3 separate regions of the Homo sapiens genome follow, and regions 1 and 2 are each reported to be linked to region 3. Evidence: microRNA targets listed by miRTarBase, many of them from high-throughput screens and not tested one by one. Region 3 holds a microRNA gene; each other region holds the end of a gene's coding sequence.

Region 1 (5,226 bases), not on the chromosome of region 3:
GGGCTTCTCGGTGCGCCCGCCCCCGCCCCCGCTCTGACTCAGCATCCCAGCCTCCCACAGGGGGCGGGAGCGCTCCCCGCCGGGCGGCGCAGGCCTGACCGACCGCGCCCCGCGCCGCCTTGGCCCCTCAGCCCGCGGCCGTCTCACTTACCCAGCCGGGTCTCCGCCGCGCCACCGCCGGCGGGCTCCCGCGGCCTCCTCGAGACTCAGGACACTTCCGGCTTCGCAAGCCCTGGCCGGAGGCCACGTGACCGACGGCCGGCGCGCCGGTGCGGGTGCGCGTGCGCACGCCTATGGCCCGTCTGGTAGTCACCACAGCCGCGGCGGCAACTGCCGAGTCGGCTTCCGCGGCCACGGTAATGAGGGGGATGTCTGGAGACACCCCGTCCACTGTTGCCCTCGCCCTTTACTCTAAAGGGGAATGAGGAGCCCTGAGCAGCGAACACAGTAATTGGGATTCCCGCAACTGCAAATCCCGCCCCTTCCCCGAGCGCTGGCCGACAGTAGGGCGGACCGACGCTGAGCAAGGGATTACATCCCAAGATTTACAGGTGTGCAGAACGTGGGACACGTGGGGGGCAGGCACAGACGGCCGGCAGAGCTGGGAGGGATGGATTCTATGTTTTAAGGGCCCACTTTGGCTGCAGTGGAGCCAGATTATCGTCTCGCAGTAATTCAGACTTTACATTGTTTTTTTCATTTTCCCATCACCCAGAAATACATTAAATTCTTAATGTAAAAATGTTCATTTAATTCCCTCTCGGTATTTTGGAAAACGGCCGTATTGGAGTATCTAACTCTAAACTTAAGAATTTAAGAACTAAAACTTAAATACTAAAATTAGGTCCTGCAATATTCGTGCAGTCAAAATCTCAAGCCGCTATTCCCAATAAGGAATAGCTTTCTGAAGGGGTCCCTTCTGCCCACGGACAGCACAACAGGCCTTTCTCAACATGAGGGAGCAGAGACCGCTGCTAATCTAGGGCTAAATTTCTGAGTGGAGGGGAAGAGGAAGATGGTGTTTCCCAGAGTAGCAGCAGCAAACACGAATGAATGGGAAGTCATGCGGAGTGGCTCAGAGGCTTTTGAATGTAACAGACCTAGGGTTGCTGTCTCGGCTGCCAATTACTGACTTAAAAGCTAATCTCTTACCTCTCTAAGCCTCAGTTTTATCAAATGCACAATGGAGATAACAAAAGTCCACTCTAATGAATTCTTACAAAGCAAGTTACTTTATTAGCATTTTAAACAATGTATAAGTGATGGAATCATTCTAACAACACATCTATTCACTGCTTACAATTCCAACTAATTTCAGTTCTTTGATATCTAATGACAAGAGCGAAGACCTGTTAAAGTTCCTTCCACCAGTAAAACTCACAGCTCAAAGTTGTGGGAGTGATTAACTGAGCCACAGGCCTTCATTCACATGTTTACCACATTAAAATACCACACAGTGTTTTCTTATAAGGTCAACCAACTGGGAAGCAATTAACATTAGCATTAAGATTTAAACTGTTAGGCACAGGGCTAAATCAGGCATTATATGAAAACTTGTGGTTCCCTAGTCAAGTCAAACAAATCCCCAAATATTTCAGCTTGTAACAGTTTTGTCCTTCCTCTCTTGAGACAATTATTTGAGTACTTGCTTTTGGAAATAAGGTAATTCATGATGGAAGCTTCCTAGCTGTGATGGTGCTCTAGGCAACTTCAGAGAATGAAGATAGAAGTTATGCATGATTATATAACATGAAGAGTTTAATTTTTATTACACACTCAATTTCCATGCCCTGATTTCTCTTAGCTCTATAAACACATGTAAATCTTCTGCAGAGCTTTAAAGAGCTCTGAAAGGGAAAACACCTTTCCATATATGGAATTGATAGCATAGTAAGGCCGTGTGCAGTGGCTTATACCTGTAATCCCAACATTGTGAGGCCAGTGGGAGGATTGCTTGAGGCCGGGAGTTTGAGACCAGACTGGGTAACATAGTGAGACCCTGTCTCTACCAAAAAAAAATGTAGCTGGGTGTGGTGGTGCACACCTGTAATCACAGCTAGTCTGGATGCTGAGGCAGGAGGATTGGTAGAGTATGGGAGAAGTTACAGTGAGCTATGATGTCACCACTGCACTCCAGCCTGGGTGATAGACTGATCTCTATTCAAAAAAAAAAAAGAAAAAAAAAGTATAGTGATACACTATTAATTCCATATATGCTAATATGAGATAGCATCCATATAAACTACTATCAAGTCTTTATGTGCCAGCTACTGTAATAAGTCTTTTCAAGTTTAACTCATTGAATTCGTAATGAGGTTTGAGGTAGCTACCATTATTTCCATTTTACAAATAGGGAAACTGAGGCTGGGAGACATTCTTTAACTTGCCCAAGGTTCTAAAACCAGTTACTGGCAGAACTGGTATTTGAACCTACTTAATCTGATTCTAGAGCCTGTGCTATATAAACTCTTACCCACTATGCTATGCTATTCATTAGTATCCATTTAACAATTACTACTATTGCAATAGCTGCAATTATCACTCCTATAGTACAGGGGAACCTATCAAAGAAACACTCAGCTTTCACTTATCTATTTCTGAAAACATTTTTTATTAAAGTATAAGGTACATTTCACTGATTTATTTTTATAACTGTCAATTTAGTTAAGTATTTTTATTATATGGTGTAAGAAAAATGTTTGAAATGTCTTCTGGAATTAACCGGAACAAAATAAATGTACAAAATTTAGAATAGAATTTTACAGAGTTTATAAGCCACTGAAGCCCATTCATGAAACCCATTCATGAGGCCAAAGGGCAAAACAAACCCTCCCTGAACATCTCAATTGGGCTTTTAGAATTTAAACGTAAATGTCTATACGAATTCTGCTGCTCAGTTTTGTCCCTCCTCTCTTCTTTCCAGTGACACTACTGATAACTATTATTTTTTCCTTTTGCTTTCTCAAGTAGCCATGAATAAAAATGGAGGAAGGCAGGGGTAAGTACTTCTAATAATTAAATGTCAGTTACCATTTACAAACATAATAAACACATAGGTATACTATAGGTATACTGTGTTCTAAATACATCCAATAAAAGAGTTAGAAAATAAATTGGGATTTTAAATTCTTTTTTTTTTTTTTTGAGAGAGAGTCTTACTCTCTTGCCCAGGCTGGCGTGCAGTGGCACAATCTCAGCTCACTGCAACCTCTGCCTTCCGGGTTCAAGCGATTCTCCTGCCTCAGCCTCCTGAGTAGCCGGGATTACGAGCGTGCACCATCACACCTGGCTGTTGTATTTTTAGTAGAGATGGGGTTTCACCATGTTGGCCAGGCTAGTCTCGAACTCCTGACCTCAAGTGATCCACCTGCCTTGGCCTCCCAAAGTTCTGGGATTACAGTCGTGAGCCACCACGCCCGGCCTGGAATTTTAAATTCTATCAACAGATTCACATAGGCTTTTTCCAGTACATTAAAGAAAAAGACTCTCATATAACAGAACTAAGTTGCATGTTACCTTTGAGGAGTGAGGTTAAATGAATTAAAGCATCCACACACTCATATTTGTAAACCTTTAAATGGGAAATTATGGAGAGATTAAGATGAGAAAATAAAACTAAAGTATTTATAATAATTCCAGAAAAGACTTGGAAGATTTCACTACGTAAAGTTTATTTTTATATATATATATAAAAAAAAGTATAACACTGGAGCCTAAAACCATTCTCTTTTGTAGAATACATATTGGCGTTGAAACAGTTTAAAGAAATGAAATGGCTATCTACAAAAAGTTAGTTTTGATTGCTGTCTTCCCCCATACTTTGTGTCTTCACACATAAAGAAAATTTTCAAAGATTTTATATTCAGCAATTTTTTAAAAAGTACACTGTTTTCCACTGCTATGGTCTTTATAAAGGACTTGACTTAAAATTTCAAATAAAAAAGAATTAAGGTTCTAGGATAACTCTTGTGTCTTTTAAGAGCATCTTTATACAGAACAATTTGGACCGGCATGCAGGCAACTTCTTTTGTTGTTACATACCTGTATTAGGAAAATTACACCCATTTTACAGAAAAATCCCAAAACATATACTGCAATAAGCTCAAAACAATGTGAAAAAGACCAGTGTGAATGGCACACAAAAATCGCCTCTTTATAAATTAACTGGAATTCATGATCATGAAGTAGGCACAGGGAAATCCAGTCCTCAGGGCTTTGCTCTCTGGAAGAACACCTGTAAATAAAGTATTAATGCAATCAATACTAATGTCAGAAGATATCACTTTCACCTGAAGAATGGCTCCAAGTATCTGAGTGCTAGCAATGTTCTTCTGTAACATTAGAACATTTCGCATGCCTTATATATCCGTATGTAATCCAAGCTAAGAACTTTCTGTTCTGGAGAGTTTGGTAAGTGTAGATATAACTTATGCTGACATCACCCAACTGGGGAAGTAGTGAAAATATGGTGTTATCTCTATGCTATAGAAATCAAGTGGTCAGAAGAAAACAAGCTCTTGACACCTTTTTACTGATTGGTACTATTTCCAAATTAACACTGGTAAATTAAATATTGAGGACGGGCACGGCGCCTGTAATCCCAGCACTTTGGGAGGCCGAGGCCTGAAGCCAGGAGTTTGAGATCAGCCTGACCAACATGGAGAAACCCAGTCTTTACTCAAAATAGAAAAAATTAGCCGGGTGTGGTGGTGCATGCCTGTAATCCCAGCTATTCGGGAGGCTGAGGCAGGAGAATCACTTGAACCTGGGAGGCAGAGGTTGTGGTGAGCCGAGATCGTGCCACTGCACTCCAGCCTGGGCAACAACAGTGAAACTCCGTCTCAAAAAAAAAAAAATTAAATATTGAGGAGGAAACAAGTCAAAGCTAAACATAGCAGTTCTAACTCTGTAAGGAATTTACTATTTATTTGATGATTCAAAAGTACTTCCAAGTCAAAATTTGAGACTACAAAGGAGTTGGCTAGAGGCTGTGCTAGGCATGGCCTAGTACTACATGCTGCCATCCATGGCAGGTCAGGTGAGCACCAGACATAATTCAGTGTTCTCAGTAAGGACAATGATATGGTTTGACCCTGTGTCCCCACGCAGATCTCATCTTGTAGCTCCCATAATTCCTATGTGTTGTGGGAAGGACCGGGTGGGAGATGATTGAATCATGGGGGCAGGTCTTTCCCATGTTGTTTTCCTGATAGTAAATGGGTCTCA
Region 2 (5,226 bases), not on the chromosome of region 3:
ATGGAAAAACCTTGTCTCTATTAAAGAATCAAAAAAATTAGCTGAGTGGTGATGCACACCTGTAGTCCCAGCTACTCTGGCCAGGGAGGGACTGAGGGGGAAGGATTGCTTGATCCCTAAAGATGGAGGCTACAGTGAGCCTGGGCAACAAAGCAAGACACCCTCAAAAAAAAAAAAAAAAAAACAAGCATCTGTCTTCAAGCTTAGAGTCTCCCACGGGAGACAGACACATTAAACAGGCTAAATGGTGCAGTCTGGTCAGTGCTATTTATAATTTAGGAACCTTACATATTATATCCCTACTCTAACCTGTTAATGTTCTATAGACTCCCCATCCCCAGGATGTCAACCTCAGTCCCTCAAGGCCATACCTGGACCCAACGGGTGAAGAAAGACGATGAGGAGGAGGACCCGCTGGACCAGCTGATCTCCCGCTCTGGCTGTGCTGCCTCCCACTTTGCAGTGCAGGAGTGCATGGCCCAGCACCAGGACTGGCGGCAATGCCAGCCACAGGTGCAGGCGTTCAAGGATTGCATGAGTGAACAGCAGGCGAGGCGGCAAGAGGAGCTGCAGAGGAGGCAAGAACAAGCCGGTGCCCACCACTGAGACCCCAAACCACCTATCCCCAGTAGATGGCCCTGCCAAGACCAGCACCCAGCAAGATTATAGAGGAAGAAATCCTAAATGCTGGTGTGGGAGGTCTAAAACATGGGGAGAGTTTTTGGATCTGGAGTTGAGAGCCATGGGTTTGGACATGACTGGCACAAACAGCTGTCATATGTTCATGGTCAGATGTCATACATTCTCAGCTGTCTTGTTCCACCAGTATTTACCAGGAAAACAAAGAATGTGTTAAGGGATGCTCCCCCACCCCACATCTTAAGTCAGTGTGCCAAGTACTGAGATGATTTTAGGGACATTTTATTTTAAATTAAATTTACAATCTAATGGTAAATTGATTACCTAATTAGTGCCTTTCTCTTTCATCACTTGTTCTGGATGTTTCAATCAGTTTAGTGGAAGGAAAAATAAATGGGGAAACTTTTTATTCAAATATGTTTTTCTTTTGTTTTTTTGAGACAGGGTCTCTGTTGCCCAGGCTGGAGTGTGGTGGTGGAGTCAGGGCTCACTGCATCCTCAGTGGGCTCAGGCCATCCTCCCACCTCAGCCTCTCAAGTAGCTGGAACCACAGGTGTGTGCATCACCACACCCAGCTAATTATTCAAACATTGAGTACCTATTAAATGCCAGATTCTGTTGAATTAACAGATACCAAGTCTGGCTTTAACTTGCTCCCAACCCAACAAACACAAAGTTGGGCTAACATTTTTAGAGTATATTTAACACTAAAATACAGATTTTCAGCTTTTGAAAAGGGGAGAAGATGTCAACATTGATTTTTATTCCCTCTTAACAATTTGCTGGAGCTGAATAATAACTCCCCCTTTAAGTAGGTTGTGTTTTCCCATTCAAAACAGTTGCATATCATTTCTCATTTTTCTTCAACAAAACGACTCTTCCATTCTATTCTTTTTTTTTTTTTTGAAATGGAGTCTTGCTCTGTTGCCCAGGCTGGCGTGCAGTAGCGCAGTCTCGGCTCACTGCAACCTCTGCCTCCCAAATTCAAGTGATCCCCCTGCCTCAGCCTCCCAAGTAGCTGGGACTACAGGCAAGCACCACCACACCCGGCTAATTTTTGTATTTTTAGTAGAGAATGGGGTTTCACCATGTTGGCCAGGCTGGTCTCAAACTCCTGACCTCAAGTGATCCACCCTCCTCAGCCTCCCAAAGTGCTGGGATTAAAGGCGTGAGCCACCACACCCAGACAATAACAAATATTTCTTCAGGATCTATTAGAAGCCCAAATCTGAGGTATAGTAGGCCTTAAAATTTACTTTGAACCTTCATGCCAGTATTTGGGGAAGAAGTAAAGAGAAAAGGGGAGAAGGTAGGAGTTTAAAGAACAATCCTATTTCTGGCTGAAGGGGATAACCAGCAAATTATAAAGACAAATCGCTATGTGTGTGTGCTCAGTGCTGATTCATCAAAGGAAACAAGCAGTGTGCACTGGAGTTTTCAGCAAGAATCTCAAAGAAGAGAAGAGATTAGTTGAGTTGAACTTTTAAAGCTGAAGTAGGCCAGGCATGGTGGCTCACTTGAGGTCGGGAGTTCAAGACCAGGCTGGCCAACATGGCAAAACCCCATCTCTGCTAAAAATACAAAAAAATTAGCCAGGCATGGTGGCGCATGCTGAGTGTAATCCCAGCTACTTGGGAGGCTGAGGCAGGAGAATCACTTGAACCTGGGAGGTGGAGATGGCAGTGAGCCAAGATCGCACCATTGCATTCTAGCCTGGGTGATGGAGTAAGACGGTCTCAATAAATAAATAGATAATAAAGATGAAGTAGACATCACCTATTTGTAAATTATAACAGAAAAGATTACCATCCAGAATTAAAAGTACCTGGAAGCCACCAAGAAGCACATAGTTTGACAGCAAAGTGAACAAGTAAGGCAGGCGCAGTGGCTCACGCCTGTAATCCCAACACTTTGGGAGGCAGAACTGGGTGGATCACTTGAGATGAGGAGTTTGAGACCAGCCTGGCCAACATGGCAAAATCCCGTCTCTACTAAAAACACAAAAAAATTAGATAGGCGTGTGCCTGTAATCCCAGCTACTTGGGAGACTGAGGCAGGAGAATTGCTTGAACCCAGGATGCAGTGAAGGTTGCAGTGAGCTGAGATCCTGCTACTGCACTCCAGCCTAGGTGACAGAGCGAGACTCCATCTCAAAAAAAAAAAAAAATAGTGAACAAATAAACCACAAAACATAGGAAACTAAATATGCTCTATATCATGGATAATCAAGAGAAATTTTGTTTTTGTTTTTGGTAGAGATGAGGTCTCACTATGTTGCCCAGGGTAGTCTCAAACTCCTGGGCTCAAGTGATCCTCCCACCTCAGCCTCTCAAGGTGTTGGGATTACAGGCATGAGCCCCTGTGCCTGGCCAGAAATGTATTTTTATAAGACATACATACTATTAGGTTCATTGCAGCATTGTTTATAATAGTAAACAAATGGTCCCAATGTCAATTTCCATCAGTAAGGACTCTATTTGCTGTGTATTCAAATCTTTTATAACAGGAATGCGTGTATTTTGTGTAAGAAAGAATAGTAGGCTATGGAGGAGGGGGTGATAGCAGCAGAGAGAAGCATAAAAGACCTCTTTGGCAGGAAGGATGGCTTCCAGACCAGCTAAGTGGAGCAAGCATGTTTTGAAGGACACTGGCTCTAATAGGGAGTTAGCATGGGGTGGGTCACAGAACGTATTTGATCAGGCAAAGAGGACTCTTGCCATCCAAGCCTGTTCCCTCAGATAAATGGGGATAATTCATATGTCATAAGCCAAATAAATGAGGGAATGAAACATACGTAACTAATAATAAAAAGTGTTAAAATTTATTGGGCATTTAACTGAGACAATCTGGTTCCAGAGCCTGCTCTCAATCCCAATGATGTGCTACCTTCACATCCTAGTTACGCCACTGACTAGCTTTGTGACTTTGGACAAGTTATTTAACATCCCAGGATCTGTTTTTACCTGTGTAAAAATGCATATATAGTACCTTTTTCACAAGCCTCAAAACGAATATAGGCCTTCCTCATAGGATTATTGAAAGATTGAGTTAAACATTGGTTTAGCTTAGGAACAGCATCTGGCACATAGTAAGTGTTCAGTGAACGTTAGCTATTACCATCATCACTATTAATGTGTGCTAGTGACTGTCCTGAGTTACATTATCTAATCTAATTTGTAATCCTCTGAACATGGCATTCACTCTCCTTTAGATGAGGAAATAAAGCTCAGACTGGGGATCAGACTCCAAGTATGTCTTGCTCTAAAGCCTAGGCTGTTTTCTACTCTACTCTCACAAGCATCTGTTGCCCAGTACAGTGCTTAACACACAGTAGTGAGTAACCACATTGACTGTGTAAATATTACTTTGCTTTTGTCAGCACTTTGCAAAAAGGAAATTAACTTTTTGCAATTAATTAGTGCAAGTTGCCCACAGTGATATAGCTTGGTATGTTTTTCTTTAGTCTCAGCTCTGCAGCCCACAATCTAGGAGCTGAACTTTAAGGTGCTTCATACCTGTCCCTATAGGATCTAACTCTGGCAGCTTTGGGTTGCCTCTGCTTAGAGGCTTGGTGCCAGGGATGAGTGGAGAGACCTCTTGGCTTGATGCCTATCTTGGCTAGGCCTAGGGCAGACTCATGGTTTAGCCTTAGCCCTTCCTTTCAAGGTCCTTGGCTGGGGACTTGGCCTTGTGCTCGGTACAAAGGTGCACTGCAATGTGTTTTACTAGATGAGTAAGAAGATACTCCTCCCACCCTCTCTCCATAAAGTTGCCAGACTAAGTCCTTGAGCTGCTGACTTCAGAAACCCAAAGAGAACTGAAGCAAGTCCAGATTGAATCCTTTAATTTTCCTGTAGAAAATGCTGGGGCTCCCTCCTCGCTCAGCAAGGACTTAAAGCAAGCAGAGGAAGTAGCAGGGATTCCTCCCTGTCAGCAGCTATCTTTTGAAGAGTTTTCATTCTTCAGATCCTGGGCACTCTGTCTAAATGGTGAGCTGATTTCCTAAAATGAGCTGAAATGTCTGAGAATGAAAGTTACTCCACGGGGATTATTATAGTCAAATGAATCATTTCAGATTCTGCAAGAAGATCAGACACGTGAAAACAAAAATTTCACAAAGAGATCAAAGTACAGATTAAACAAGCACAAGACACATTGGCCACCTCTGTCTCCAGTGTCTGTCCATCAGGATTAGTTCTAGGCACACCCAGTACAAGCTCAGAAAGCTTTCCTTAAGTACACTAGAAACAGAGGGGACCCAGGGGCCTCAGCATTGCTAGTATCTGAGTGGCCAAAATACCTAGATTTGTTTCTCTGTGTCTAAAACATACCTTTTCAGAATCTACAGCTGGCCATTCCCAGGATTCCATGGTGGAGGAACAAGTCATCCTCAGCCAGAGGAAAGGGATGAAAACGAAGCTGAGAAATCTGCTGGCCTCAACTAGGAAAACTGCCCATTTTACCCAGGCATCCTATCCTTCTTGAAAGTTAGTGATCTGGCCAGGCATGGTGGCTCACGCCTGTAATCCCAGCACTTTGGGAGGCCAAGGCGGGTGGATCACCTGAGGTCAGGAGTTACCAGCCTGG
Region 3 (5,226 bases):
CCACGGCTGAAAGGAACAAGACAGATCCTGACATAGCTTTGGCCTGGGTGTTAGGTCAGAAGGAGTACTGGTGCGTGGGGGCCTTACCCCAGGGTTGAGTATTTTATCTGTAAAATGTTATCTGCCCTTTGGCTGCATTGGAATTTCAGAGAAGGCTGCAGAGGCCTGGGTTACACAGCCTGAGTCACAACGTGGGAAGGAATCTCTGCCACGGGAAAGGTGGGCGGAAGCAGCTGGCAGCCTGGGGCGTGCTTCAGGCTCCTCCCTCTAAGGGGCGCCATGGGAACAGGCTCCGGAGGGAGCCGGCGTCTGAAAGGCCCCCGGGACCTGCTGCAGTGCCAGAGGGGCCTCTGGAGCAGGCCTGGCTTTTAAATGGGGGGCTGAATTCCAGCTCACACACACCTCAAGTCCAACCTTACTTTCTTCAGCCAGAATACATTTCTTGTAAAACCTGGCTTGTTGCTTGGCTTTTAAAGATGGTGTATGTTTGTAAAAATATTCTTCTGGGCTCAAAAGCTAGCTTGAGGGGGCAGATGCCCCAGGTGTCCCAGCTCCACAGCCCCTGGCAGATCCCAGACCCCTTGGTGGCAGGTCCCAGAGCCTAGGTGGTAGGAGCTTGATCTTTGTTTCTGCCCTTACCCCTCAGTAGTGGGGCTGCGAGGTAGTAGACAGGATGCCCAGTTAAGTTTGAATTTCAGATAGAAAATAATTTTAGAATAAATATGTTCTATCTAATACATGGGACAGATGTTATTTTTAGAGATAGGATCTTGCTCTGTTGCCCAGGCTGGAGTGTAGTGGTATGATCATAGCTCACCACAACCTTGAACTCCCAGGCTCAAGCGATCCTCCCGCCTTAACTGCCTGAGTAGCTGGGACTACAGGCATGCACCACCACGCCCAGCTAATTTTTCTTATTTTTTGTAGAGACAGGGTCTCACTGTGTTGCCTCACTCGAGCTGCTGACCTCAAGTGATCCTCCCACCTCAGCCTGCCAAAGCACTGGGATTACAGGCATGAGCCACCATGCCTGGCCAGGACATATTTGAAATGGGGAGATTTTAAAAATTCTGATGATTAGACTGAATCCTCAGACGTTCTGGTTTGATTGTTGTGGGTGTAGCCCAGGCATGGGATTTTTTAAAGAGCTGCTCAGGTAATTCCAATTTAATTGCGTGTCCTACTTGGGTTTTTTGTTTGTTTTTATTGTTTTTGCTAAACCTGGCAACCCTACCGAGTAGGGATTAGCAGTAACTTATCTGAAATTTAGAGGTGTTTTGGGGGTGGGGCGAGGGTTTCTGTAGTAGACTCAGATTTTACATGGCCCTGAGCTGCCCTTGCGTTCAGTTGGAAGCCACGCAAAATGAACTGAACCAGGAGTGAGCTTCGTGTACATTATCTATTAGAAAATGAAGTACCTTCTGGTTCAGCTAGTCCCTGTGCGTTGAGAGGCTTTAAGAAACTTCTAGTAAAAATGTTTTTTTCTTTTAGCTTTGAATTGGCCAGAGTTTATCCTAGATTATTTTATTTTAAATTGGTAGAATTCTTTGCGAACTGTCACAGAGAAATTCCTTTTCATGACTTTATTTCTGACCTATTAAAACATGAACAGGCCAGGCATGGTGGCTCACGCCTGTAATCCTAGCACTTGGGAGGCAGTGGCAGGCGGATCACTTGAGCTCAGGAGTCCTAAACCAGCCTGGGCAACATAGTGATACCTTGTCTCTACCAAAAGTTAAAAAAAAAAAAAAAAAAGCTCAAGAACCTGCACGAGGGCCTAAAACAGTGGGCTCAGCTTTGGCTGTGCATTGGAATCACCTGGGGAGATTTGTAAGCTTCTGCTGTCTGGGCTGAACCCCCAGAGGTTCGGATTGAATTGGTGTGGGGTGTGGTCCAGGCATCGAGATGTGTAAAGACCTCCCCAGGTGATGATATGCAGTCCGAGGTTGAGACTGCCCTGTCCTGCAAGGTCGTTGGCCAGAGGTAGAGGAAACTGGTCAAAGTGGCTGTTGGGCTTGTCAAGCCCGTGGCTGAATGACAGTGAGCTCTCTTGCTGGGAGGGTTCCTTTTCCTGTTGTTGAATGGTCCTGGCCTGCAGGATGGGAGGCCAGATGCCTTCAGGAGCTGGTGGATCCAGCTGTTCTCACCAGCCTGGAGGTTAGCAGACCAGAGTGGGTGGGCAGGACCTTGGCCTGGTGCCCCTGGAATCAGTGGGTGGCATGTGTTGGGATATACTGGCTACAGGCTCATCTCAAAGAGCAGGTAGAACAGAGTCAGCAGGGAACTGACAGGTGGGGCTGTCCCCCTGAAAGCAGCCGCAGAAACAGCTGCCACCTATTTGCATAGCTGAGCAGGAGGACATACTGTCTTTGTGGGTTTTGCTTCTGGTCTGTTTCCTGACTGGGTTGATAAAGGGAGTCCCAGCTCGTTCCCTGTTAGCCAAACCAGCATCCTACTCACACACCGGACACTCCAGGTGCTAGTCCACTGGTGCTGGTGTTCAGGGGAGTTGGGGGGGGGGGGCGCGGGGACAGAAGCGCGGGTTCTTGGTTCCAATGAGGGACTTAGCAGAAGCCTCCAGGGGCCAGCAGGGCCAGGTGAAACTGGGAGAAATGAAGCCCTCTGTGTCCTGTGTGTGTGGTGGGGTTTAATGCATTAGCAAATTTAAACTTAAAAACTAACTCTAGGCCGGGCACGGTGGCTCACACCTGTAATCCCAGCACTTTGGGAGGCCAAGGCAGGTGGATTGCCTGAGCTCAGGAGTTCGAGACCAGCCTGGACAACATGGTGAAACTCTTGTCTTTATTTTTTTAAAAAAACAAAAAGTAACTTTCGATGTGATCATACCAGGAAAGTTTTGCGTGGTCACCATGCCAAGAAAATGACTTTGGTTGCCCAGCAGATCCACAGCGACTCTTTCTCAAGGGCTACTGTGGATTCTAGATTGAGGAAAGGGGCCACTTAGGACTCAGTGCTGGTATCCTCCACAGTCCTTTCTCCCAGACTCTGGCCCTCCCTTTGGGACCCAGGAAATCCCCTCTAGGGTGACGCTGCTGGCTAGGAAGACTGAGGTCTGCTGCGCCAAGGGGCCTCAAGTTAGAAGGGCCATGCCGTCAGTGGATGACTTTGAGCGCTGATCCTAGGGACCTGCCAGGTCCTCACTTCCTGCCCTGGGTGCACACATGAATGGGGCAGCCAGCAGGAAGCGGGAGAGGCTGGAACCAGGAGCCTGCCCTACCTGCATGGCAGGACAACTCTGAGGCCCTTCTGCCATATTCTCTGCTACCCACCAGAGAAAATAGGCTGCCTTCTAGAAAGATTTGTTTCTAAAAGCGTAGACCCTGGGGAAGTATAATGTCACCATGCTCACCAGGCGAGGTTTCCCATATGACCTCCCTGCCCCGACCTCGTAGGTTGCTCCTTTCCCCATCTGTAAGGTAGAGATGTCTGCCCCGGAGCTACCAGCTGGGGATGGCATCCAGGCCATGTCTCCTGCAGGATCCAAGTGCTGTTGTCCCCAGGGTGACCCTGCCTCCTGCTGGGGCCCATCCGCTTTGCTGTGCTGCACAGGCTGTTTTCATCTGCATGGTTTGGGGTCTTTGTCCTTGTGCCTTTTCTTCCCCATCGCCACTGTACAGGATTTTCCACATTGCCCACTGCCTCCTTTTCTACATCGTCTCATCTCCCTGGCCTTTCCCGAGCCCTGTAAATGTGTACTTTTTCAACGTGCCTCCCCCAGGTGAGGCCAGCTCTCCCGGGCACATTCGTCCACAAGGATCAGGCCCCACTTACCCTTGGCTCGCTCAGCCTGTAGACTTGGTAACTTTGTACAGAATCTTTCATTATTGTCTTAAGCATGGGGGGCTAGGACCCACTTAGTCCCTCCTCCAGCCTGCAGCTAATTTAGGAGCCTTGCATTCCAGAAAAGGGCAACTTTGTGTAAAGCAGCTTCTCCCACAGAGCTTTCCCTGCATTGTTAGTGATGTCGGGCAAAGCATCACTCTTTAACCTGGGGCATTGGCCCCAGCAGGGATATCATGGGACCGCAGCCGCTCCGTGCACTGTCTCTGCCCCCAGAGGAAGCCCTGTCCATGGTTCCTGGTGCACGGCCACAGGCCTGCCTTGAGGCCACCACATCTGGTGTCTAGAACAGCTGCGGGCCCCACTTGGGCAGAAGGAAGAGGTGCTAGCTGCTGCCCCTGCCTGCTGTGAACACCTGCCCAGCCCTTCCTTGTCTGCTGAGGTGCTCAGACCAGAGTGCCATTAAATACCAACTGATGTCACGGAGCGGACGGTGCATTGCCAAGGACTCACAGCTGTGGGCTCCCTTCCAGCTCCTCCCACTTTCTTGGCTGGGTCTTCTGAGGCCTACGTGGAATGAACTACACATGTGGCCTCATGCCCAAGGGTTTGTTAGATGGCCTCTGACTCTGTGGGATTCAACTTGACTTTTTTGCCCCAGGAGGCTCTGTCTGGAAACAGGCTTAGCTTTAGTGCTGGGGTGGGACCTGCCCTGTGGGCCCCAGGGAGGGGACAGTGGGGGTGAGGCCCTGAGGCTGTCCAGGGTCTGAGCTCTTTGCCTCCAACCTGCTTCTGCCCCAAAAGGAACAGGCTGTTGGTGGCAGGCTCCTCCCGGGGAGCTGTACTGTACAGACCAAGGTGTAAATAAACAGTTTGCTCTTCTCGCCTGACTGAACCATGAGTTTCTGTGGTTGGGGGAGGGTGGGCAGAAGAGGCCTGGTTCCAGGGCTCACAGGGACAGATGGTCTCCCTTAAAAAGAGCAACCCCCCTGCCCCCCACCAAGTTTGTGGTTCCCAGGGTGGCTGGTGCTGTCCCCCAGGGGCAGGGTGGAGTGGGGCGGTGTCACTCTTCAGTCCCTAGGGGAGAAGACGTGGATCCCAGAAGCCTCTTTAATGCCACCATTCCAGCCACAGGGCTATGATGTTTGGAAACTTTGTCCTTTGTGTGGCTATGTTCTTTCCCACTGAGGTCTTCCTAGGGGTCCAGTGGGGTCCCAGTGCCATGCTCCCTCCATGTCCGCCGCTGTGGCTCCCCAGGGTGACGGCCCAATGCCTCCATTCAGGACTGGCTTCAGACCTGCCAGTGCTTGTCTCTGCCACACCATCAAGTACCAAGGTGGTCCCCAGTTGAGTCAACCAGACCCCTGGATTTCTGCCTTCTGTCTGCTCCTTCCTCTATTACAGGATTCCAGGCATGGAAGTGGC

Evidence for each region. Region 3 holds the annotated microRNA hsa-miR-4724-3p (GUACCUUCUGGUUCAGCUAGU, at 1,415-1,435, shown strand). A microRNA usually pairs through its seed, bases 2 to 8, with sites in the 3' UTR of a target mRNA and lowers its output. Matches are read on the target gene's strand: a 7mer-m8 pairs with bases 2 to 8, a 7mer-A1 pairs with bases 2 to 7 and ends in A, and an 8mer does both.
Region 1: the mRNA of XPOT is a reported target of hsa-miR-4724-3p. Seed matches in the 3' UTR shown: 7mer-A1 at 3,513-3,519.
Region 2: miRTarBase lists COA4 as a target of hsa-miR-4724-3p. The part of its 3' UTR that is shown has no 7-base or 8-base seed match.

What each region holds. Positions count from the first base shown.
Region 1 is chr12:64,447,113-64,452,338 of GRCh38, reverse strand. It overlaps XPOT (exportin for tRNA), which reads right to left. Exons shown (of 25, transcript NM_007235.6): 25 at 1,214-4,234. The coding sequence ends at 4,208. TBK1 (TANK binding kinase 1) reads right to left here and starts at 219. Exons shown (of 21, transcript NM_013254.4): 1 at 152-219. RefSeq lists a silencer at 1-348.
Region 2 is chr11:73,868,495-73,873,720 of GRCh38, reverse strand. COA4 (cytochrome c oxidase assembly factor 4 homolog) reads left to right here. Exons shown (of 2, transcript NM_016565.3): 2 at 327-1,054. The coding sequence starts at 343. The coding sequence ends at 606. Among named protein-coding and RNA genes, the nearest start is that of COA4, 5.7 kb to the left of the region's middle.
Region 3 is chr17:31,533,527-31,538,752 of GRCh38, forward strand. MIR4724 (microRNA 4724) reads left to right here and starts at 1,357; the gene lies at 1,357-1,445. RAB11FIP4 (RAB11 family interacting protein 4) reads left to right here. Exons shown (of 15, transcript NM_032932.6): 15 at 1-4,685. RefSeq lists enhancers at 1,985-2,284, 4,864-4,933.